Linked DNA regions of Homo sapiens: all the other regions are linked to region 3. Evidence: fine-mapped expression QTL. A gene starts in region 3. Each other region holds a variant in brackets. All regions are shown on one strand. Distances are from middle to middle.

Evidence for each region. PIP is the estimated chance that this variant, and not a neighbour inherited with it, causes the effect.
Region 1: its variant is fine-mapped to the expression of DSTN in whole blood (INTERVAL, PIP 0.92).
Region 2: its variant is fine-mapped to the expression of DSTN in whole blood (TOPMed, PIP above 0.99).
Region 4: its variant is fine-mapped to the expression of DSTN in whole blood (TOPMed, PIP above 0.99). The same link has a PIP of 0.9 or more in blood mononuclear cells.

The regions. Positions count from the first base shown.
Region 1 is chr20:17,520,461-17,526,175 of GRCh38, forward strand. BFSP1 (beaded filament structural protein 1) reads right to left here. Exons shown (of 8, transcript NM_001195.5): 2 at 4,388-4,448. Among named protein-coding and RNA genes, the nearest start is that of BFSP1, 8.1 kb to the right of the region's middle. The variant G/A (reference allele first, on the strand shown) is at 2,900.
Region 2 is chr20:17,645,208-17,650,922 of GRCh38, forward strand. All of the region lies in intron 3 of RRBP1 (ribosome binding protein 1), which reads right to left. Among named protein-coding and RNA genes, the nearest start is that of RRBP1, 34 kb to the right of the region's middle. RefSeq lists enhancers at 3,019-3,108, 3,173-3,876 and silencers at 3,289-3,378, 4,028-4,157. The variant G/A (reference allele first, on the strand shown) is at 3,310.
Region 3 is chr20:17,567,317-17,573,031 of GRCh38, forward strand. DSTN (destrin, actin depolymerizing factor) reads left to right here and starts at 2,759. Exons shown (of 4, transcript NM_006870.4): 1 at 2,759-2,895. The coding sequence starts at 2,893. It also overlaps a transcript of BFSP1 not described here. RefSeq lists an enhancer at 1,722-2,289 and silencers at 2,700-2,889, 2,910-3,199.
Region 4 is chr20:17,502,274-17,507,988 of GRCh38, forward strand. The region is part of intron 5 of BFSP1 (beaded filament structural protein 1); the gene reads right to left. Among named protein-coding and RNA genes, the nearest start is that of BFSP1, 26 kb to the right of the region's middle. RefSeq lists an enhancer at 2,239-2,762. The variant A/T (reference allele first, on the strand shown) is at 3,274.

The sequences.
Region 1 (5,715 bases), 47 kb before region 3:
GGGTATTTAAGTTCATTAAGAGTTCTAGTTAGCTGGAATTTAATTAAAAAACACTTTTCCTTCAACTCTGGATGTCAAAAACCTTTCCAAAAATGTTATGGCTGTTCTTCCAGGTGCTAATGTTGGCCTGGAGGGCACTGGACAAATTCTACATCTCTCCACCCTCTCTCTTGCCTCTGCCTCAGTCTCCTCAACTTTGCTGTCTCTCCCTTTGCATTCATCCTGACTCTTCCTCCACTCCTCTTGCCTCTCCACCCCCAGACTCCTCCTCTTCCTTCCCAGTTTCCTCTCCTTCTCTTCTCCGGAAGTTCATTTCCGGGCTCAGAGGAATTCTTGGCATACAAAGGCATAGCCCTGAAGGTAGGGCTTCATGCCTGCACCATTTTATCCCCTAAACTCCCTGGCCTCTTGCTGCTTTCCACAGGCACGTTTAAGAGACACATGAATTACATGAAAAAGTATATATGTCAGCCTTTAAATATTTTTAAAATTGTTTTTAAGTGAAAGCATTTGACTAGAAACCACATCATTTTAAAATTCTGGGAATTTTAAAGAGAAAAGGAGAGGGAGATTTTAAAGTCTGCTGCTTACAGTTTCCTCAAGATAAGCAAATCAGGCATCATAGCAGACCAGTAACTTCATACGTATATATTTGGTGACCATGAGATCTAGAAGTTAGCAAACCCAAATATTTTAAAGTCACCTGGAATTCCTACTACATCAAAAGGCTGAGAAGTTGAATAACTTTGGCCATAGGTTGTAGGTAACGTGTTGAGGAGTTTACTTCACTTCTAAGTGCACAGCAAAGAGTGGCCTACTATAATTTATCTGGCTGATAAAACTACAGGAGCTCTTTCCGTAGGCTTGATTACACGGGCAGCATGAAGAAATGCATGGTGGTTTTGTGAAGGCAGGGGCCATCAGTCCTTTCACATACACTGCAATATCCTCCAAGTAGGATGCAAAGACTGGATCAGTGATGTCCCACGGCCACACCCAGGGATGAATCCCTTCCACAAGTCAGACCAAAGGAAATGGCCACTGAGACTGAGCTAAAACCTCGTTGATCTGATGTAAGAAAATACCCAAAACCTGCAGGCCAAAATCACTCACACGACCAGCTGATGCGATGTGAATTTTAGCCTCTTTCATGTCATCTGATGATCTCAGCAGAGAACAAAAAGGTCCAGTGTTCACCTGGCCCTGCCCTTGAGGGACTATTTGGGTTCTCCAGAAGTGGACCCCAAGGCAAAGACTGGGTACCTGTGGCTTATCTGGGAGGTGATCCCAGGAAGCACAGGTAAGGGAGGCTAGTGAGCCAGAGAAGGAAACAAAACCAATGAAGGAATGTGACGAGCAGGTTGCCATTGTAGACAGCTCAGTACGGCTGGGGTCCCTCTGAGGGACCATGTGGAATGTGGCTCTGAACCATCACTATGAGGGGTGGGGAACTTATCCACCTATCCCAGTCCACAGCAACTGAGGGTTGTTCCTGGGGTGTTAACACCCAGCGCTTCTGGACTATACTGATGTGGGCCATGCATGTTCCCAGAGCCCGAGATGCAGGCAGTGATCAGGGTGTTCAGCGTGTCTGAGTGACCACTGGCATGGCCCAAGGTGTGTGGACAGGACACCAACATCAAGGTCCATGGGGCCACCTATAGCCGAGAACTCTCTGGCTTCGTGTCTGGCCTCTGAGTAATACCGGTTCCCTGACTATTCTTTGGAGGTAGAGAATGAACCACAAATACAAAAGACCCCAACTCCTGTCTACACTTACCACGGCTGAGCTGCGAGGCTCTGAAGTCATTTAACCTCATCAAGGGTGAGTTTCCTCACTGGCCCAGAGAAGGATTTGGAATAGGTCATTTCTGAGAATAAAACCTGCCCCCCCAATAACCACGGGCTGTTCTGAGGCTCCCACAGGCTTGCACAAGGCCCTCCCCAGCGTCCTGCATCTGCCTGCTGTGTTTATGATTTCTACTATTATCCAAGGACCACCTGCATCTTATTCACTCTGTATTTGTCTTTAAAGGTACTCATTCTTACGTAGGTTTATTTGGAAAGGAATATTTTATGTCATCCGCTGTAAATAACAGGTAATCATAAAAAATTCACAACTATTAAATATCACTCCTCCATGCACTTTCTAAAGTCACCTCCCATTTCAACAGGGTTCTGCACCCACACTGTGGAGAAAACCAAGCTGGTGTCTGTCACATCAAGTGCTCTGTAGTAATAACAGTGATCAGGGATTCAGCACCACCAGGTGATGGGCAAGTCATATACATTATTACATCATTTAGTTCTCACTAGGCACTTTCACTCCTATGGTGGGTGGGGAGTATTGTGATTCCATTTCACAGATGAAAAAACCGAGGCTCAGAGGGACAAGGCAATTGGCCCACAGTCTCACAGATGCTCAGCTGTAGCAGGAGGTTCCTAGTCACAGGCTACACTCCTCGCTGGGGCTCTGCAGCTCACCTGCGGGCAGTACTGTCTTACTTGGACCCAGGGGCCAGTCATGCTAATTGCCTGTGCTGGTCTCACCCACATTCTTGGTAGCATCTTTCCCCAGAACCTTCATAATATTCTTACAGGGCTGATACTTCAAATGTCCACACTCTATGTCACAATATACATGAAGGTGTATTATGCGATGCCTTTTCCTTATTTTTCGTTATCTATGTTGCCTTATTTTTTCTACTGAGAATATGGATTGCTTTTGTAAAAAGAGAAAAACAACAGAAAGTTTAAGCTTGTTTTTTAAATTCACTGTCATTTTCCATCAAGGGTAAAAGAGGAACCCCATTCTTTCTCCCCTTTATTTGAAGAGTACCCAGGATGGCACTGCGTGAGTGACAAGTGAGGACAGATGCTCACAAAGCAACATGTGGAA[G/A]TGTTGGGGAGAGGGCCTCGGAGGGCCTGAGGGGTGCTGTGAAGGGTGCTGGGTCCCCGTGTCTGAAGGCCATGTTCTGGCAGTCTGAGGTTGCACAAAACAGAAGAATGGGGATGAGCTACAGGTGTCAGCAGAATAGCAGAGTGATGTCAGACACTAATAAGGCCCAACTCCCAGCTCAGATGTCCAACAGGCTCGAGGCCATCGTTTTCCAAGCCAACTATTGAGCGTGTGTCCTCAGGGCCTTCCTGAAGTGCATTCTCACTGCCATCTCTGTGTTTCTATCTAGGGTGCCCAAGTGTCCTACTAGCTGTCCTGAGAGTCCCAGCCTGCATTGACTGACCTGTGTTATTACAAACTGCACCCTCTTTTGCACACTGTCCTGGTTTGAACATATCATACGTGCTCACGCGCAGAGGGGCAGGTAACATAGACAAAGCAAAATTGGGTTTCCCCTAGATTCTAGTTCTGATTTTCCCCTCAACCAGCAGAGTAATCCTAGACAGCAAAGGCTGGACAAAGTGAAGGGATGGCAAACATCCGGCGCTAACCCTGACTGTCCAAAGAGGCTGCTTGGAGTTCCATGTGGCAAAGAAGCCTAAAGCATACCTGGGCATGGCAGGGAAGAGTCTGCGGTTTTGTCAGCAATTTTGATGAGTTGTAGGCATGGAAGGGGCGGGGAAGGGCAGCCCATGTGCCCTAATCAAGCAGCCTTTCCACTAAATAGTCTCCATGGGTCGTTCTGCTCTGACATTGGAGCTCAAAAACGATCAGAAAAGGGCCATGCTTAAAGCTATGTGCCATCCCTGGTTCTGTACAACCCTGGTGGTCCAGAATCATTCTGCTTTTTGGTGGTGGGATTCTCCCAGCAAAAGCAGAAAATCCAATCAGTTAGTTAGAATCATGATGAAGAATCCCAAGAAGGAAATCACCACTGTTCTGTAAAGAGCAACTCCACATAACCCTGCAGGAAAGTCAAGTGGCTAAGAACCCCTGGCATCTCCCCTGGGGCTATTGGTCACGCTATAAGAGGGAACTCTAGAGGAAATAGAAATTTCTTCCTCTGTTATCTTGAGACTTCTGTGGAGCCGCAATCTCAAAACTCTTAGCCAATAGGACAGAGGTATCACTGTGTCCAAATAACCACTGCCCAAAGCAAGGTCCTTCCTAAATTTGGTGTTGGGCATCAGTATGTCTGACAAGTAAAACAGCAGCTTGTCACTGTAACGCCGGCAGGTTTTGCTAGCCTAGCATAACCAACAAGCTTCATAGTCTGTGTTTCTCTCGTGAGAGAGGGGTGTGTGTATGGGTGTGTGAGTTCACTCATAAAGACTCAATTGAAATTAACAAGTCAAGAGACAGAGTGACTGCAAAAGAAGTAGTGACCGCCAAAGTAACACAAAGAGGAAGCCTGTAAAACCTGCACTTCCACCATTCCATTCAACACTGTAATTAAGCTACGTAAACCCAAGGATGTGTTCCGCTCACCTTGTTAAGCCGTTCAAGCATTTCTTTTAGCAGGAGTTGACATTCGCACTCATTTTCATACCTGCAAATTGGACACATAAGTGAGAGTTGGGTAACTACCATGCTTTCACATGTATGGATCACATAATCAGCATTAAATTCAACCTGGGTACGATGCCCTCTCCTTTAAGGAGAGGGTCTTAATTTTAAAGTAGTAGCTAACGAATGCTGCATTTCCTAGCTGACTGCCTCCCAATCAGAAAGTGGTACCATTTGCACACCGCGTGGGGTAACCAGGGGCAGTTAGCGGAATAGGAGTCTCCCAGCCCGAAGGCACCAACCCCAGCCCCTACAGCCTTATTCCCAGCCACCCCAAGGATGAGGGAATTATATCCTAGCCTATCTATAACCCAAGTGCAGCAGTGGCAGAGATGGGAGACTGCCCTGCACAATCTACACCACCATTAACCTGACCGTACTTGGATTTCCTATAGTATTTTATTTGCTGACACATGTAATTTGTCAGTTTTTCTGGATTATGTCATTTAATCCTTACATCACCCCAGAAGAAAGCAGTTATTGTTAGTGCTGCATTAAAGATGAGGAAACTCAGGCAGATGCTCCGCACACTTTTCCCTCCTCCCAGCAGCATCACTCCCCACACAGCGATGGCCTCCTCTGGGCAAATGGGTGGGGCAGGCTGGACGTGCCAGGGAGTCAGGGCCTCTGGGAGCAGCCCACAAACTCTGAATGAGGCAAATTGGAGCATAAGTACCCCAGCTCCTTTTCTGCTCGGCTGGGACAACTGAGGCACGTCCCTCTGGGGGAATTTTAACCCTAAAGAGAGAAGATTCCTTCCTAAATGACCCCTCCCCTTGTTCCCTATAAGGTGACCCCCAAATGCCCATTCTTGCTGTCTTCAGGAGTTAGAGCCCTTGATGCTTGGCAAGCACAGGACTGCCTAGAAGGGAGACTACATTTTCCAGCATTCCTTGCAGCCAGGTGTGGCCATGTGACTAAGTCCTGACCAATGGGATGGAAGCATAAGTCTGCATGGCAGCTTCCAGATACCTTTAGTTAAGTAATGGTGTATGTGTGCCCTTTGCTTCTCATTTTCCATCCCTCCCTCCATCCTGCAGCCAGAAACATGAATGCTGCCTTCCTGAAGGCCACACAGAACCTTCTGTGTCCCAAATACTGTACAGTATCATACTAAACTGCTTAACCAGACCTTACACAAGTGAGAAACATTTTGGATAAGCCAATGACATTTTGGGTAAGCCAGTATCACTTTTTCTGTTTTTTTCTGTATGGCGGGGGGGGGGGGGGGGGGGCTGGTAAAATATGCA
Region 2 (5,715 bases), 78 kb after region 3:
CGCTCTAGGACGCCGCTTCCTGCACAGGGGCAGCATGGCCACATGCTCACCCGCCGCAGGCTCAGTCCACAGAGTGCTCCCGAGAGTGTTCTCGGAGCGGCATTCTCATAAATCTTTATTAAAACTTTCTAACGTAATTCCATTCTATTAGATATTTTAACAGAAAAATAAAAACTTGCAACACGCGAAACAAACGCAAAGCTGCGTACAGCAAAATGTTAACGCTCTCCTCTGCCACCTCTCATGGCCCCCCAGAAACTTCCACAGCCTTTGCCACACTCATACAAACACTACCTTTTATACTGTTTTTAGAGAGCTATAACTTTACAAATCATTTTTCATTAAATCTTTTAGGTAAAAACTCTGCTGTCTCAATTGTCCCCAAATCAAGGGCAGCACAACTGAAAGAAAAAAGGAAAGCCCTCAGAAGCAGAGGCAGGATTTCTGGGCCTCCAGATGAGTTGCATTTAAATAACGTACTAACGGGAGCCTAAGGCGTGCCCAGCACATCACTTAGGGCTCCAGCAAATACTCGAAGATACCAGTAATCTTCCGAATTGTGAAATCTTAACGCACTAAACTAAGTCTCTCAGACTCAACACCTAGTCTGTGAAATCACAGACTTCAAAAGGCCCAGGGTGCAGTGAATGCTGGAAAAGCTCAGCTCCCTGAGGGCTTGCTCCTGCGGCTAACGCTTTGCCCATCTTGGTGGGTATGAAATACCAGGAAGGGACAGGCCAGGAGGCCTGGGGAGTGACCAGGGAGCAGGAGACCCAAGAGTAGAGACGCAGGCCAGTGTCTCACTTTGATGGATAATCCAGACCTCTGTCTGGCAGGGGACACAGCAACACCCCAGGGGCCAGGCCCTGCAGGAATGGGACAGGTACTGTGACAAATAACCACACAGGCCTGGGCTCAGGGGGGTGGCCTCTCCTGAGCTGGGTGGTCCTGGGCACGGCACTTCACCTCCAGGTGATAGCTGCAATGGGGGAATCTGAGCCAGAACCCTCAAAGCCACAGGCCTGCCCAAGAGCCTGGAAACGAGATTTTTAAGTGCTATCTTCTCATCTTTACTGCTGACAGCTAACTCAATAAAAAACAAATAAATGAATGAAACCACTGTACAGATGAACAAACACATCCGTGGGCCACGTCCAGTCTGCAGGTCACCTCTGTCCTTGGGCAGTGGGGCACCAAGGTCAGAGCAAGGCCTCTGGGACCAGGTGGCCTGGAGTCGAATCCCAGCTCAGCTCCTTCCCACCTTTGTCCTTGGACAAGTGGCTTAACCTTCCTTTGCTTCTGTTTCCTTGCCTACAAAACGGGGATGATCATTGTTCCCCTCACAGCGTGGCTGAAAAGAGTAAGTTGCAACGTGCTTGGAACCATGCCTGGCGCAGGGTAACGCACAGCAAAATAAATCAGCATGGCCGGCCTTCAAGCAGCTCACAGCAGCTCAGATAACGCACCTCACACCCCAAATTTCAAAATGACTCTCCCTTCTGCGACCACACTGGGAGGCTCAGGCACCTAAAATTAAACTCATCTGGCAAAGAGGCACTTAGTGTTCTCTCTCACTGTCAACTGTGGCGTCCTTGGATGAGGCTTTTCTCTCTGTATAATTTCCAGGATCCCCCATGGCCAGGGCTCAGGCATAGAAGGAGGATCTCAGCCCTAAGTGGCCTCATGAGACTCAGCGGCCAGCCCCCCACATCAGCTGCTGGAGCACCCCTGCACTGTGCACACCTGGCTCTCTCAGTCCACGGGGAGGGTATCAGAACCACTCCAGGAACTGCCGCCTGAGCCCTGGCAGCAGCTGGTGGTTAATAGGAGGGGATTATCGCCTTGGCCCTGGGATGGGCCCCACAAAAGGCTCCGGCTCAGCTCCAGCTGCTGCTACAGGTGCCCAGCAGCCCTGATCAGGGCAGGCAGGGCCAGGTGGTCTCTAGACACAAAGTATGTACCACCTGCATACCCAGCAGTTCGTAAATTGCTGGGCCTGGAAAGTTAAGTTATAGGTTGGGCTGTGGCCAACAGAGGCAGAGGACACAGGGCCATAAGGCAGAAGAGTGACACAAGGGGGACCTGGAGAACAATTGTGGCAGCAATGCCGAGAAAGGCTTTAAGGCATTGGGCCAAGCATAGCTGGGTAAGGACACGGTGAGGGGCTTTGGGCCCTAGCGTGTCAGACTTGCACCCGAGGTTGGACTAGGTCCAAGTCTTCATAGGCCCTGGGAATCTGGATTTTATTCTGTAGGCAACAAGCGATGCCTAGGAAGGAGCGTTTGAATTTGAGAAAAAGATTTCAGGATGCCCAGGGGGATGCGGCTGGAAGCAGGCAGACCAGCTGGCCTGGACCCTGGTCCTAAGAGCCTATCCCCGCTGGGTCCTAAGAGCCCAGGACCAGGATCTGGGCCCGAGTATTCAGGAAGCTGAGCTGGTGGGAGAGAGGCCCAGGTGTCAACCCAGGGACTCTGGCAATGGAACCTGAAACAGCATGGACTTGAGGGCTTGGGGAAGAACTCCAGTGGCAAAAACTCTCATTTCCTAAGAGATTGTCCAGATCAGTTCTGAGGGTGCCTCCCTCAGACACACACATGTAGTCTGAATAGCTGCTGCCTCCGGGCCTGCACGGGGTGACTCCAGACAGTGCAGACCAAGGCACCCAGCATGGCTGCCCAAGCCAGATCGCAATCTTGGCGTGCCTTCCACGCCCTGTAGTCCCCAGTCACCCGACCCAAACTCAGGTCTGCTGTAAGAAGGTGAAGACCCTGGGGCCCCAGGAAAGGGCTCCCACATGCCTCCTGGAAGCCCAGCACCACGCAAGCAGTCATCAGCCTCTGCAGACCAAGATTCAGAGGCTGAGGACAAGCTCCCCATTCCTGCTGACCCAAAGCCAAGGGCATCTCTGTCTCTCTCAACCTGAGGAGCCGGCTCCCTTCAGGGTCCCACCCCGAGGTGGGACGCAAGACGCTCTCTAGGGAGGAGCTCCGGCCAACATCACTGCTGGCCTCTAACTGCTCGTTCTTGGACTGTGGCCGTGAAGGCTCCTCCTGAGCCTGTGGGGGAAGTGAGCTTTATGAGACCCTGGAGGAAATGAAGATCTACCAAATGCTCCTGGAGGCAAACTGCGACTCCTGCTCTCACTCATTGCTCATCTGCCCACAGCTGAGGCAGGCCCTGGGCAGTGCACAAACAGTGGACTCCAGGCCCAGCTCAGGCCACAGAGCCCGGCCTTGCCCAAGCGCTGCTCAGCGCTCCTGACAGGAAGCAGGCCAAGGAGGCGCAGCTGCACTTGACCCCAAATGCCAC[G/A]AACGGTCACATCCGCAGCTTTAAGGGCAATGGAGCTCAGTACAAATAATGTCAAGAACAACCCAATTCAGGGCCTTTCAATCAGTCCTTTTCCTTTAGTTGGAGAAAAACGTAATCGGCTACAAACTTGGGGACTGGTATATTTAATGGTATCTAATGGAATTTAAAATATCCTATAGATTGAAGAACTGTTTTCCTCTTTAAAGTTTTGTTTTTTCCTCCAAATTTCAACAAAACCAATTTTATACCTGGAGTTAAAAAAAACCCACATCACAATATTTTTAAAAGAACGACAATTCCTGGAGGACCTCTGGGCAAGGCCCTTCCCAAGGCACACAGGCTGGCCCAAGGAGAATACAGTTTAAACAGCAATTAGGACTCTACCTAATGCCTGCAGAAAACGGCAGGGGATTTTTAATCCCAGGCTGTCTGACCACAGCCGTCTGGGGGCAGTGACCGGAGTCCCAGCCTCAACACGTTTTCAAGTGGCTGAAAAGAGATTTCTGGAAGAGTGTCATCTAGCAGCTTCTCACACTGATACTTGGCTCGCTTCCCTAGGGGATGTTTTTGTTCTTCTTTAAAAAAAGAAGAAGAAAAGAAAAAGTTGGGTTTGAAGAACTTCCACAGAAAGTGAATAAAGGGTCATAAGCCCCAGAGAGTTTTCTTCAGAGCTTCAGACCCTGAGAAACTGAGTTAGGTTCAAAAGAAAAAGTATCTGACTTGATCTCCGTGTACACCTCTCTGTGCAACTGCCGGCGAGAAGGGCACAGGGGCACCTGCCGGGCAGGGCGGGGGCCTCGGGAGGGGCTGCCCACACCGGCCGCTCTGCCATCTGCTGGTCATGTGCATGACTTCTGGGAAGTCTGAGCTTTGCTTTCTGCTTCTGTCAAACAGGTAAAAATTCAAATCCACCTTAGAGAATTGCACGAGGGATAAAGGCATGGAAACCAGCCTCCTAAACTGCACATCTGAACAAACACCTGGCTGGGGAGAGCAGTGGCGTCAGACCTGCTGTGCTAAGCAGCGCTGGGTTTGGAGCAAAGCAGGCTACACATGGGGAGGACAGGCGTGGGTGGGTGGGTGGGTGAGGAGCTGGGAGCAAGGGGTGTTCCCATCACGAAGTCAAATTGTTTAAGGGCCCTGCTACCCTAGACACCTTGAATACCGTTTCCTGGGGGCTTGACAACTCTTCCCCATACCCCCTGACCTGTGACCCCAGCCCCATTAGATTGCAGAACACGACTTGGGATTTTAGGTTACATTTCCTATTGTAGGGGTAGAATGGGGGCTCAGCGAGACTGCACACGACACAGAGCTCACAGGCCCCCTCCCACCACGGCACTGCCAGGCTCCAGAATGTGGGAACTGCCTTTAACTTCCCACCTTACCTCAGTTCATGAATGCCTCCCAGATGCCTGTGTGCTAGGGCTGGGACACGCACTGGCCTCCTTCTGGAGGCCTCAGAAGAGCTGGCACTACCTTTCCTCATTCCAGACCCCAAAAGGAGCAACGTGTTCCTTGCTGCTCCTCAGAGGACACAGGGCTGCCTCAAAACACCCAGAAGGATGAGAGTTCCATCAGCTTTGGTATAATGAGGGCCTGTTTATTTGACTTAGAGACACATAATGGAGTTGTTTCTTCTCCATAAAAAAAAAAAAGTTATAGAAAAACTGGAAAATGCAGAAGGGTGAAAGGAAGATACTAACATTTACCCATAATCCTACCTCCCAAAGGTGGCCTCTTTTTCCCACATGGACTTATCTGACAACGTGGCAAGAATGGGCCTCTGAAATGCCTGTTTCTGAGTGTTTGCCACCTCATGGAGGTTGGGTGGGTTCTCCTGGGCCATGACACAATGGTCTCTCTGGCCACAGAGTAAAACTGGCTTGCATCAGCAGGCTGGGGAAAGAGGGCCCCGCAGAAAGCAGGCCCACAGCCAAGACAGAAGTGCCATGTCCCCAGGGTTACCCACCCCCGTCCATTAGGCAGAAAGGTCACAGGTCCTTGGGTGAGCTCCAGACTCCCCAAGAGTGCAACAAGTACCCTGCATCCCCGCATCCCCTGAGTGACGTGCTAGCAGAGGTAATGAGGAAACACCTGTTTCCAACCAGCAGCAACAATGAGTGAAGCAAGCTCCAGTTAAAAGTACACTGTTCTGGAGCTCATGCTAACTGTGGGGTCTTCAGAATGTACATATGTACTTCCTCAGTCTACGCCCACACTGTAGGATCCAGACTTGATTCCAGGTGCTGGGTGGGACAGCTCTCCTGCCAGTGTAACACCCAGATGGTGATTAGTACAAGATCAGGGCAGCCCAGGTGGGAGGCAAACCAGCATAATCCTGCAAACAAAGACTCAATCTGAGGATAAAAATAGATTTTTTTAAAAACCAACACCACTGCATAC
Region 3 (5,715 bases):
CAGGGGCTATGCCAGTTCATACATACGCATCTTAAATACCCCATGACCTCAAGGAACTCCCAGCTATCTGGTAGTAATGGAAAATGCACATAAATAATTACAGAGCTACAGTAATTGTAGGGAAAAAACCATGAAACCTCCTAACTCAAAGTATAGCATCTGCATCTCCTGGGGCCATCTAAGACTCCACCCCTCAACCCCGGAATCTGCAGTTTAACAAGGATCTCAGGTGATTTGGATCTTTATTAAGATTTGAGAGGTGGCCGGGCGCTCGGTGTCTAAGGCCTGTAATCTCAGCACTTTGGGAGGCCAAGGTGGCCAGATCACCTGAGGTCGGGAGTTCAAGACCAGCCTGACCAACACGGAGAAACCTTATCTCTACTAAAAATACAAAATTAGCCGGGTGTGGTGGCGCATGCCTGTAATCCCAGCTACTCGGGAGGTTGAGGCAGGAGAATCGCTTGAACCCGAGAGGCGGAGGTTGCAGTGACCCGAGATCGCACCATTGCACTACAGTCTGGGCAACAAGAGTGAAACTCAGTCTCAAAAAAAAAAAAAAAAGATTTGAGAAGTGATGAACTCTGGGATTATAGAAGGAACTAGGGGGGTGAAGGAGTTGTAAGGGGTACGGGGCACGAAAAAAAAAAAAAGAAGGAACTACTATTGATCCTTGGGAAGTGGTAAGAGAAGTCTTCAGATGCGAAGGGTGATAGGAACATCCCAGGCTGAAAAAATAAGCAGGCCCATGATCAAGGTAGTTAGAACTAGTAAGAGGTGTTCTGGAATGAGAAGTTTCGTCTGGGAGGGGCAGTGGGCACTTAGGAAGATATGGGAGATAGGGCAGAAAAAGTAGGCTGAGGCCAGAGGCAGACGGGCCAGACTGACCTGCTGAGGGTTATGGAGGAAGCCACAGCAAATTTTAAGCAAGAATGTAACAAGACCAGTCTTATGTTTGGACCTAACTCTGGTGGCAGAGTGGAGGACGAAATGCAGGAGAGGCTGGAGCAAGCAGGCAGGCATGTATCCTTAAATGAGCACCATTCACTTTTGGACTAGAAAGGAAGTCTGAATATTAAGAAGTGTAAGGGCCACAGGGTCCTAGGCAGGCAGAAAAGCAAAGGGTTCCAGCTGCAGGAGGATACAGGGGGGTTCCTTCTCAGTTCAGGAGTGTGGTCTCGGACTGGCATCTTCAGCATCACCTAGGAGTTGTTAGAAATGCCCATTCTCAAGCATCATCTTAGAAGCAGTGAGGGAACCTTGGGGATGGGGCACACAAATCTAGCTTTGAACAACTTTTCCAGGTGATTCTGATGCATGCTAAAGAACCACTGCTCTAGCCCGCCAAAAATCATGTCTCAGGTGGTAAAGGCTTAGAACTGCACAACTTACTGTCTTTTTTAAAAAGAACGAGGGTAATGAGAAATGGGTTCCTATGTTGAGTGGGGCAGAACAAAAGCCACATACAACCTAGATTTTACGTAGTGCCGGAAAAAAAAATACTGACCATCTTGTCCAAAAGTCTCATATTTGGAGAATTAAAATAGTTTTGGTCGAGGCCATGATGTTCTCGGTAACCTAAATTAATTTATAAAATTCTTTGTTCCCTTTATTTCCCACAAAAACACCCGCAGCAAAAACGCTGGGATTCATCTGGGCCCTCTGAAAACCGTGTTTCCGACGCAACCGCCCATTAGAAAAACACAATTCCAAATTAAAAACCCGGAGAACTGAGCGGCGGGGCTGGCGCCACCGTCCCGGGACAGCGCGGCCTTTCCCAGCCACACCCCTGCGCGCCGCCGGCCTCCTTCCCCGGCAGTTCCCAAAGATAAATAAATGCTCCTTGTTTTTCCAGACCTGAAATTAACGGTGACTCACAGAGCACTCTGCATGGCCACGGTCGCCTCGGGAAGGAGGAAAAATGTGCAGACTTTTTTCCCCTCACGCGAGGGCAGGACAAGCCAGACTGGGCCAATCAGGGGAGGGCGGCGGGAATCGCACCAAAGTAGGTAAAAAATGCGGGAGGCGTCCCCGCTGCCGCGGCCCGCGACTCCGCTCCCGTGGGTCCTCCCCCAGTGCGTTCCCCCTCCTCGGGCCCTGCCCTCCCAACCCCCAACATCTCTCTCCTTCCACCACTGTGTCCCTCTCCCTCACCTCTCCCCTTGCCCCCACCTCCCCCACTAAGTGCCCCCTCGCCCCTCCCCCCACATCCCCCTCCTCTCCCCACACTGTCCCCTCTCCCTCACCTCTTCCCTCCCCTCTCCATCCTCCTCCTCCCCCAACTATGTGCCCCTCGCCTCTCCCCTCCAAATCCCCCTCCTTCCCACACTCTGTACCCCTCTCCCCCGGCTCTCCCCTCCTTTTCCCCTCCACGGCCTCGCCCCGCCCCAGCGGCAGGCACACCTGGCCAGGTGGCTGCCTCCCCGCGCGGGCCATGCCTGCACAGTGGGTGGGGCGTCAGGTGGCCCCGCCGAGGAGGCGAAGGAAGGCCACCCCTCCCCCATCATCTTTTGCCCGCCCCTCGCCAGCAGGAGCCAGCCCAGTCCGCCTTCTAGCCTCCTGCAGACCAGAGAGGACGCACCCCCACCCCTAAACACTTTCTGGTGAGGCGGACCCTGCCCCGCAGCCTTCAGCAGATGAGGGAAGCTCCCCTCCGAGACTCTGGATAGCCGCCGGGGGGGCGTTGCCTGGCCGGCTGGTTGCGTAGCAACGGCAGGCGGTGCGTGACGTGCGCAGCCGCGTTCCGTCCTGAGGCGCGCCCGCCCCGGGGTAAGCTCGCGCCGCCGCGTCAGCTCAGCGCTGGGTCTCTCGGTCCCGCAGCCGTGAGGAGGACGGTCTGCATACTCGCTGCCCGCCGGCTCCCTCCCCCGCGTCCCTGCGACCGCCGCGGCGAAGATGGTGAGTAGGAGGGAGGCCGAGGCGTGGGCCGAGGCGGCCGGGAGCAGTGTGTCTCTGGGGCGCCGCGGAGTCGGGGCTAAGGGGGTGAGCCGTGCCTCAGCCCGGGGAGGGACCCGGTCCGGCTGCAGTGTCCGGGCTGCGGGTGAGGGGGGGTCTCTGGGCCTCCGTCTCCCGCCGTCCTGGCTGGGCCCCCGCGCCCCGGGGTGGATCCGCGGCTGTTGCGCAGCTCCCAGCTGGGGCGAGGCCGCCGCCCTGAGCGTGGCCTCTGCGGGTGTCTCCAGACCCGGCCTTGCAACAACTGGCTGGGGTCGAGCGCCCCCACCCGCTCTGTGAAATCCATCCGGGGGTCTGCACACCGAGGCCGGGGAGTGGGGGGCGGGGGGCGTCGGAATCCGGCCACCGTCCTTGTTGGCGTGGGTTTCCCCAGAGCTGGCGCTGAGGCGCTTGGTGACTTGTGCGCGTTCCAGCCCTTGAGGTCTGTCCATCTCAATAAGGAAGATAAAGCCTTTATGGAACAGTCCTAGAGCACGGAATGATCGCTAACGAGCAGGATCCTGGCATGATTTAGAACGGGGTGGCCTTGCAGCTCCTTTGTTTTTTTCTTTTTATCTGGCAATCGGCTTCCAGCAGCACTCTCGTCGTGCTTGTCAAGCTTGGCAGTGTCTGTTTTAACCCTTCCCTGCCCGATCTGTCCGTGTATGGTTAGAATTTTTTTTCTGACCTGTAGACAGTTGGACTCTGCCAGAACTTGGTGCGCAAGGTGTGGGCATGATGCTGGGATGCTGATACAACCAAATTTAAGAGCTTTAAAAACCATTAAAATACTGGAGTCACCAGAAAGTAAACAGGTGCTCATTAGTATATTCTATATGATGGACATTTTGCTTAATTTACATATTTTCCCCCTTTACACTGTCACTCTAATTAGCTATTTAAAAACGTATTCTCAACTGAACTATCAGTTGGAACATTTTGTCGTTTTCGTTAGTGTGCACACACTGTTACCATTTTTGGTCAGTGATTTGCAGGCGTAGCCTTACCAGACTTTGCTAGAAATATTACACTGTAATTGCATCTGTCTAGAAGCAGTTGGTACCAGCTTATCTGCATACAAACTGTTTTCACTGTATAACAGTTTTGGTTTTCTTAAGTTACTACAACTTCCGTGAACATGCAGGCGGCCCCTTAGTGAAAGAAAAGATAAACCGGTAGTTTCTTGATGACTGTAGATATGTATGTAATAGGGATTTGATACTGTTCAGTTTTTGGTTCTTCTTTGGTTTAATGCTGTAAGCTACAAAGTATCAGCATCTTGAGTCTTTTTAATATCTAATTATTAGAAATTTAATAACATTTTAAATGTATATGCTACTTTATACTGAAAGACTTAATCTAGGGGCTTTGAGTTATGGTACGCTTAAGACCATTCACTCTGTGAAAGTGCTTTGAAGCTGACTAGGGTCTGCTCTAGAGACTTCTGATTTGACATTATGCTTTTTTATTGAGTGGCTAATACAGACTTTATTTTTCTGTTTGAAAATAAGAGACCAAACATTTTACCTTTAGTTAAATGCTTAGTTTTAGTTAAAGCTTAACTAAATTCAAGGAAGGAAGGGTCTGTTATATTTCCTGGTTCTTGTGAGGAGTGGGAGAAATAAAAATTAGAAATGAGCGATTTCCAAATACGCTTCAAAATTGTTGGCTTTAGGGAGATCAAGAAGACCTTACAAGTTACTCTTAGAGTTCAGATTATAGACCCCCCATTTTTAAAGGTTATTTTTGTTTTTAGCCTTATGAGCGCAGGAGCATCTTTGTTTAGTTCAGTGATTAGAGAATATTGTGGGTATTATCCCAGAGTCTAGCACTTTGCTTTTAGCTCTTTTGGTTAGATGCTTGGTTCCAAGTTTCTTTTAAGATTAAATTTTAACTACCGATGGGTTTGTTCTAAATTAGCAGAATCACTTCCTTGTACTCACCAAGTCTTTTAGAAGCACCTGAAATAAAGCAGTTTGAAACCAGCTGGGCGCTTCAGGATGAGATTAGATGTTTTCAGATGTCTCCTCCAACAAAAAACAAACAACGTCTGCCTCCACGTGAACCACAATTACAGACCCCAAACAAAACGTGTGTGTGTGTGTACTGGGTGTGCCAGCCTCCTTATACAGAGATTGTTTAGTAGCCCATCATCAAGTTACTAAGGTTATTTGCTCAGTAGTTCTACTGGATATGGATTGAGACATCACACCTAGACTTGCCTAGCTCCTCTTGTAACCAGAGTATCTTTTATGCTTCTTGGAAAGTAAGAGTGTAGTCTTGCCCCTGAAGTAGAGTTAAAAGGTTTGCACGATAATCTAACCCTTAACCTTATCCTAATCTGGACTGTGGTCTCACAGACTGAACTAATTGGCGCAGTATTCAAGTATTCTAATACTTGGTGATTAGCAAAAACACTACAACCCAGTGAAATAGGTTGGGCATGTATTCACATGCCTATTTAACATATGAGAAAACAGATTGTAAAGGATTAATTGACTTGAGACAAATCACCTTTTCCAACTCCAAGTTTTAAAATAATAATTTTGAAACATTTTAAGCAGAAAAGTACACAGAATAACAGATCCTTTTGTACAGGAAAAACAGGGCTATCTTATTGCCATATTTCAGGTTTTTATGTTATCATTACAGCTAAATATGCATCATCTTCCTCATCCCACTCCCTTCCCTCCCTAGAGTTATAACCATTCCTGTGTCAAAGACATAATATCCTGGCTGGTTAAGGAGATGATTTTATTCAGGCTATTGCAATTAGGAGAGCATTCC
Region 4 (5,715 bases), 65 kb before region 3:
ACATAACGAAATACTCAGGACACAGCGTCACTCCATGGGGGTCTTGCCAAGAATGCAGAACCTCCATCTAATCCTGAGAAAACATCAGGGAAACCCAAAAGGAGAGACATGCCACAAAGCCACTGGTCTGGGTTCTTCCAAAGCATCACGGTCATGGAAGACAGAGAAAGACTGGGGACCATCCCAGTATGGGGGAGACAATCAAGACATGACACCTAAATGTGAGTAGGATCTCGACCAGGAAAAAACACGCGTGGAGCAACTGGTGAGATTTTAGTGCAGTCTATTAATGCGACAGGATCACTGTTAATTTCCAGGTTTTTATCATCGGCCCGTGGTTTTGTGGAAGTTGGGTGAGGGGTATATATTGGAAGCTACTGTGCTGTTTTTGCAACTTTTCAAAAATCTAAAATTACTTCTGAATAAAACAAGAGTCCCCTTCCTGTTTCAGCTAGTGTGATCCAGTTTCTGTTTCTCCCAAGAAATCTGGATTCAAACAGTCGCCTGTAATAGCAAATACAAGTCAGACACACTAACGCCTGGTGCAGCCACATCTCACCCACACCAGAGTGTTCAGACACTCCAGGAAACACTTTCAAGGAATATGGGGATTGAAAAGACCCCTTTGAGCCCCAAATCTCAAAGAAGTGTTGGAATTACATGGTGAGGGAAGTGTGTGGGGCTGTAGAGAACATAGAGGGGCCATGTGTTGAGGGATGGGGCGGGAGGGCTCATGAGACAGACTATTCTCACTTTTAATTTTTGAGACAGGCAGGGTCTCACTCTATTGCCCAGGCTGGAGTGCAGTGCTGCCATCAGGACTCCCTGAAGCCTCCACATCCTGGGCTCAAGTGGTCCCCACACCTTTGTCTCCTCAGTAGCTGAGACCACAGGTGAATGCCACCATGCCCAGCCAATTAAAAAAAAATTTTTTTTTGTAGAGACAAGGTCTAATTATGTTGCCTAGGCTGGTCTTGAACTTCTGGGCTGAAGTGATCCTCCCACCTTGGCCTCCCAAAGTACTAGGATTACAGGCGTGAGCCATAGCACCTATAATCTCTCACTTTTCTATGTTTGAAATCTTCCATAATAAAGAGTAAAAGAAAAAATTACATATGAAGAGAATGTACCCCAGATCACTGACCCAAGAGCTCTGGGGTGGCCGTTCCTTTTGGGTGTGGGTTCCCCAGCCCAGAGCGGGGGTAGTGGCTCATGCTGATAAGTCCTAAGCTGGGTCAACTCATCAACCTCACAACAACCTTATCAGGGAAGGGCTGTCATTATTTCCACTTTACAGATGAGGAAACTGGGGCACACTGGCAAAGTGGCTTGCCCATAAATACCACAGCAGGATTCGAATCTACCTGAACAAGGTCTGAAACACCTCCCAGAACCAGGCCACCCTTGCCCTGCACCTCAGCCTCCTCCCTGCTGCAGGCAACAATATGCAAGCACACACGTGCGTGCACACACACACACTCTGTCTCCAGGGCCCCTGCAAACTCCCCATTCCCACACAGCAACAGGCCAACACCAGCCTGTTCTCTCTGAAGACATGGGAAAGTCAGTGTGAGCCATGCAGAGACCTCTCCTTGCAGGTTTTCACTTAGCAAAGTTTTAAACTGTAAATAGAACCACAAAGCATCACAGAATGGGAAATGAGAGCCCAGGAAAGTCACCTGTGATCTTTCTACCCTACAAGTGGAGTGCAATCTTTTTATGTCTCAGGAAGTGGTGATTGTTGTTTTTGTGGTAGTGGTAGGGGGTGGAGGGATGGGGTGTTTTCTTGGGTGTGCATTTGTGTTTGTTTGAAGAAGGCTGCATGTTTTAAAGGCTGGAGATCCTCTGCTGGAACACTGCGGGAGGAGCTCCTGTCCTGGGCGCCCCCACAGCCCCCATCCCCCACATGACCATGAGGCCCAGAGCCCTCCAACTCCGTACTGGTCGCAGATGCTCTACGGGATTCTGCTGAGTCCAGTGAAGTGATGACTTGGTTTATAAAAGTGGACTGATGTCTATACCGATGTGGTTTTTACAGCTCCATAATTTAAACCTTTCATCAGAAGGAAGAGTGTTCAGGAAAACCAGTAAGAGCTCCTGTCTCAGGAGCTCAACAGGAATGGAGATGCCTGTGACGAGAGCCACTGTGGCACGGCGTCCACTGCCACCCAGCACCAGCCTGGCCGAGGAGAATGAGACACGGACCCTCCTCTAGAAGGCCGCAGTCCAGCAGGGGAGGCACGCCCAGGGCATCTCAGAGGAAGAAAGGGGCTTCCAGGAGGAGGCAGGACCGGTCCTGGGAACCGAGGAAGGAAAGGGACTTCCAGAAAGGAGAGAAGGAATGAGCAAAGGGGAGGTCCCAGAAACTGCAGGAGGGGTCAGGAGACGAAGAGAAGAGAGGTTGGCCCAGGGTTCCTCCAACGGTGGGGCCATGTGGCAACCTGAACTTTATCCGGAGCCAGGTGACTGCTGTTTCTGCCTGGACCGTTAGATTGCCTGGTTTATATCTGTCTCCCCACTGGGCTGTGAGCCGCTGAGGGCACGACACAGGCAGGAGCCTGACGCGAGCCCCATCTGGAGGGGTGAGCTCTCACCTCAGTCCTTAGGACCCCAGACACCTTTAGGTGTAAGGTTTTTTTTTTGTTTTTGTTTTTGTTTTTGTTTTGTCTTAAAAAAAAAAAAAAGGAAACTCATTACATACTGTCTTACACAAACTAAACCACTAGATGGTGCTAAGTGACTTTAATGAGAAATGAGACATGGGCGGTTCCCACTTTGCAATTTTAAAAAGTGACTTTCTTTACTTCCCTGTCACAGAAACTCTCAGTCCATGCAATTTAGGGAACTAGAATTACCTGTCCTTTCCTCTCCACCTGTCCGAAGTGCTTCCTCCGGGGCTCTTACGGGTATATGTGCACTTATTTGAAGGAGAGGCTTCCAGCTTCCAGCTCCAAGCCCAGGCACTATTCTCCCATCGTCCGCCCAGCGTCTCCCAGACTGAGCCCGCAGAGCCACGTGGAGGGCTTAAACAAGGCGCACCGGCCCGCCCCAGAGCTCCTGGGTCAGTGGTCTGGGGTGCCTGTGAATCTGCATTTCTGACAAGTTCCCAGGTGGTGCCCCCGCTGCTGGGACGGGGACCTCACCCTGACGACCCCTGCTGTGGAGAGTTCGGGAAGCTTCGGACGCCCTAACCATAGGCGGAACCCGCTGCCACGGCCCTGGTGCTAGCAGACGCTCTCTCTCGGCCCGCCCTCCACCGAGTTCCGGCCACAG[A/T]GCGGGCCCTGCCCGGCGGTGTGCGGCCACATCTTCCTTCAGCTCTAGCTTAGCTGCTACATTGGGAAGCCACTAAAACCTTTAAAACCAGCAAAAACCCAGCCACAAACATTTGAAATGAGGCCCAAGCCTGGGACACAGGGGGACCAGGTGGAACATTCGCCCACTCCCTGGGACCCGCCCTTACCCTGTGGTTCTCAGTGTGGCTCCTGGACCAGCCGCAGCACCATCACAGGGACACCTAGACATGCAGCATCCCGGGCCACACCCCAGACCCACTGAGTCAGGAGCTCCCGGGCGCACCCAGCCACGTCTGGGTTTTCATCAGAGCTAAGGAGGCAGAATTTTGGCCCCCGTGACCTTTTCCCCTTGGTGCTACACCCTTGAATATGTTACATGGCAAAAAGGGACTTTGCAGATATAATTAAAGTTCTTAATCAGTTACCCTTTTTTAAGGAAAGGAGTTTATTCAAGATTATCCCCTAAAAACAGAAGTCAGAGAAACGTGTAAGTCCAAGTCATTGAGATGAGACGCAGGAAGAGGGTTCAGAGTTCGCTGCCGGCTCCGAACGTGGAGGGGCCTGAAGCCAAGGAGCCTGGGCAGCCCTGACAGCCACTCCTGGCCAGCAGCCGGCAAAGAAACAGGGTCCTCACTCCTGCCAAGAACTTGAATGAGACTGGAAGCAAATTCTCCCCTAACAGCCTCTGGACAAGGGCCCAGGCTGGCCAACATCTTTCTTTCTACCTTTTGAGACCCAGAGCAGAGAAACCGATAGGACCCACCCAGACTTCCCACCTACACAACTGCGATGACACGGGTGCTGGTGGTGACTCATCAAGGCAGCAACAGAAAATGGACACAGCCGTGTTTCATCAGCTACATGCTATAGCTTGTTACTGAGTGAGTATAAGCACATCTGTCATTTTATTTAAAATGATTCAGTAATATTTTGATAACTGTTTTAATATAATTAGTTTCTTTTTTTTTTTTTTTGGAAACGGGGTCTCATTCTGTTGCCCAGGCTGGAGTGCAGTGGCTCAGTCTCAGCTCACTGCAGCCTCAACCTCTCCAGGCTCAGGCAGTCCTCCCATGTCAGCTTCCTAAGTAGCTGGAACCACAGGCACGCACCACCACGCCCAGCTAATTTTTGTATTTTTTGTAGAGGTGGGGTTTCGTCATGTGGCCCAGGCTGGTCTCAAATTCCTGGACTCGAGCAGTCCACTCACCTTGCCCTCCCAAAGTGCTGGCATTACAGGCGTGAGCCACCACACCCAGCCTGGTTTCCTTTAAATTATCTGTATTTTATTTTATGCCTTTACCATCATTTTTCTGAGAAGCGGTCTCCATCAGAATGCCACGGGTGGGAGTGGAGGAGGCAGCACAGAAGAGATGTTTGAGACCCTGCTTTAGAGACGAGGGCAGCAGGGAAAAGCCAGGAAGTCCTCCTGCAGCCACTCAGGACAGAAACAGGCGGCCAACCAGCGGTTTCATTTCATGTTCTCAGAAACCAGGTTAATCTGTTGTGAAATTTCTTATTTTGATATTCAACAAATACCTGTACATAAAGAGAGGAACATTCTTTTTGTCCTGGAACTGGAATTTGCCATCTAGGCTGGGCTCCTTCATCTTTCTCAGTATCTCTAGGGCAGTGGTTTTCAACTTTATCACCACCGCCCCAGGAAAAACCACATTTCTCATTGCGAGCCATACACATCAGATAGGTAGGTGTGTGTGTGTGTGTGTGTGTGTGTGTGTGTGTATTTCAACATATCCATATGGATATAGAGAGATAAAACAAGGGCTTCACAAAACAAATCCTCCCTTTCACTTGCTGTACACTCTGTTTTTCTTATTATATTTTAGTCTAGCATTTTGTTGACTTCCTTTTACATGCCAGTCAATTCTACTGAGTTCATTTTACATCCAAAAATGAGTTGTCACTAGCCATTTGGAAAACACTGGTCTCTAGGACCACGACTGGGCTTGTATCCACGTCCCTATTCACATACACAGCACACACACATACACATGACACACACACACCACACACACTTCACATACACATCCCACATATATCACACATACCATGTATATCACACACACACACCCCATGTACACAAACACATACAACCCTTATTCTATCCTGTCAGAGCCTCAGAAGAAACCACACAGGCCCCAGTCACCAGGATGAGGCACATGGTCCCTGAGCCAGGGTTTGTCTCACAAGAAGGAGGAGTTTTAAGTGCCTTACTTGGTTCCTCCTGCTGCGATCGTCAGTTCAGGGGACCACCACAGACCCGGGTTTGCTTTCCAGCAGCCCCTGAGAGCTGCTGCACTGTGAGTTTTGTGTGGTGCGTGCTGGGATGGGAATTAGGATGTGAACTCCAAGGTCCCAAAATGAAATCCTGAGCAGACATGGGGGCACTGGAAATCAATAAAAA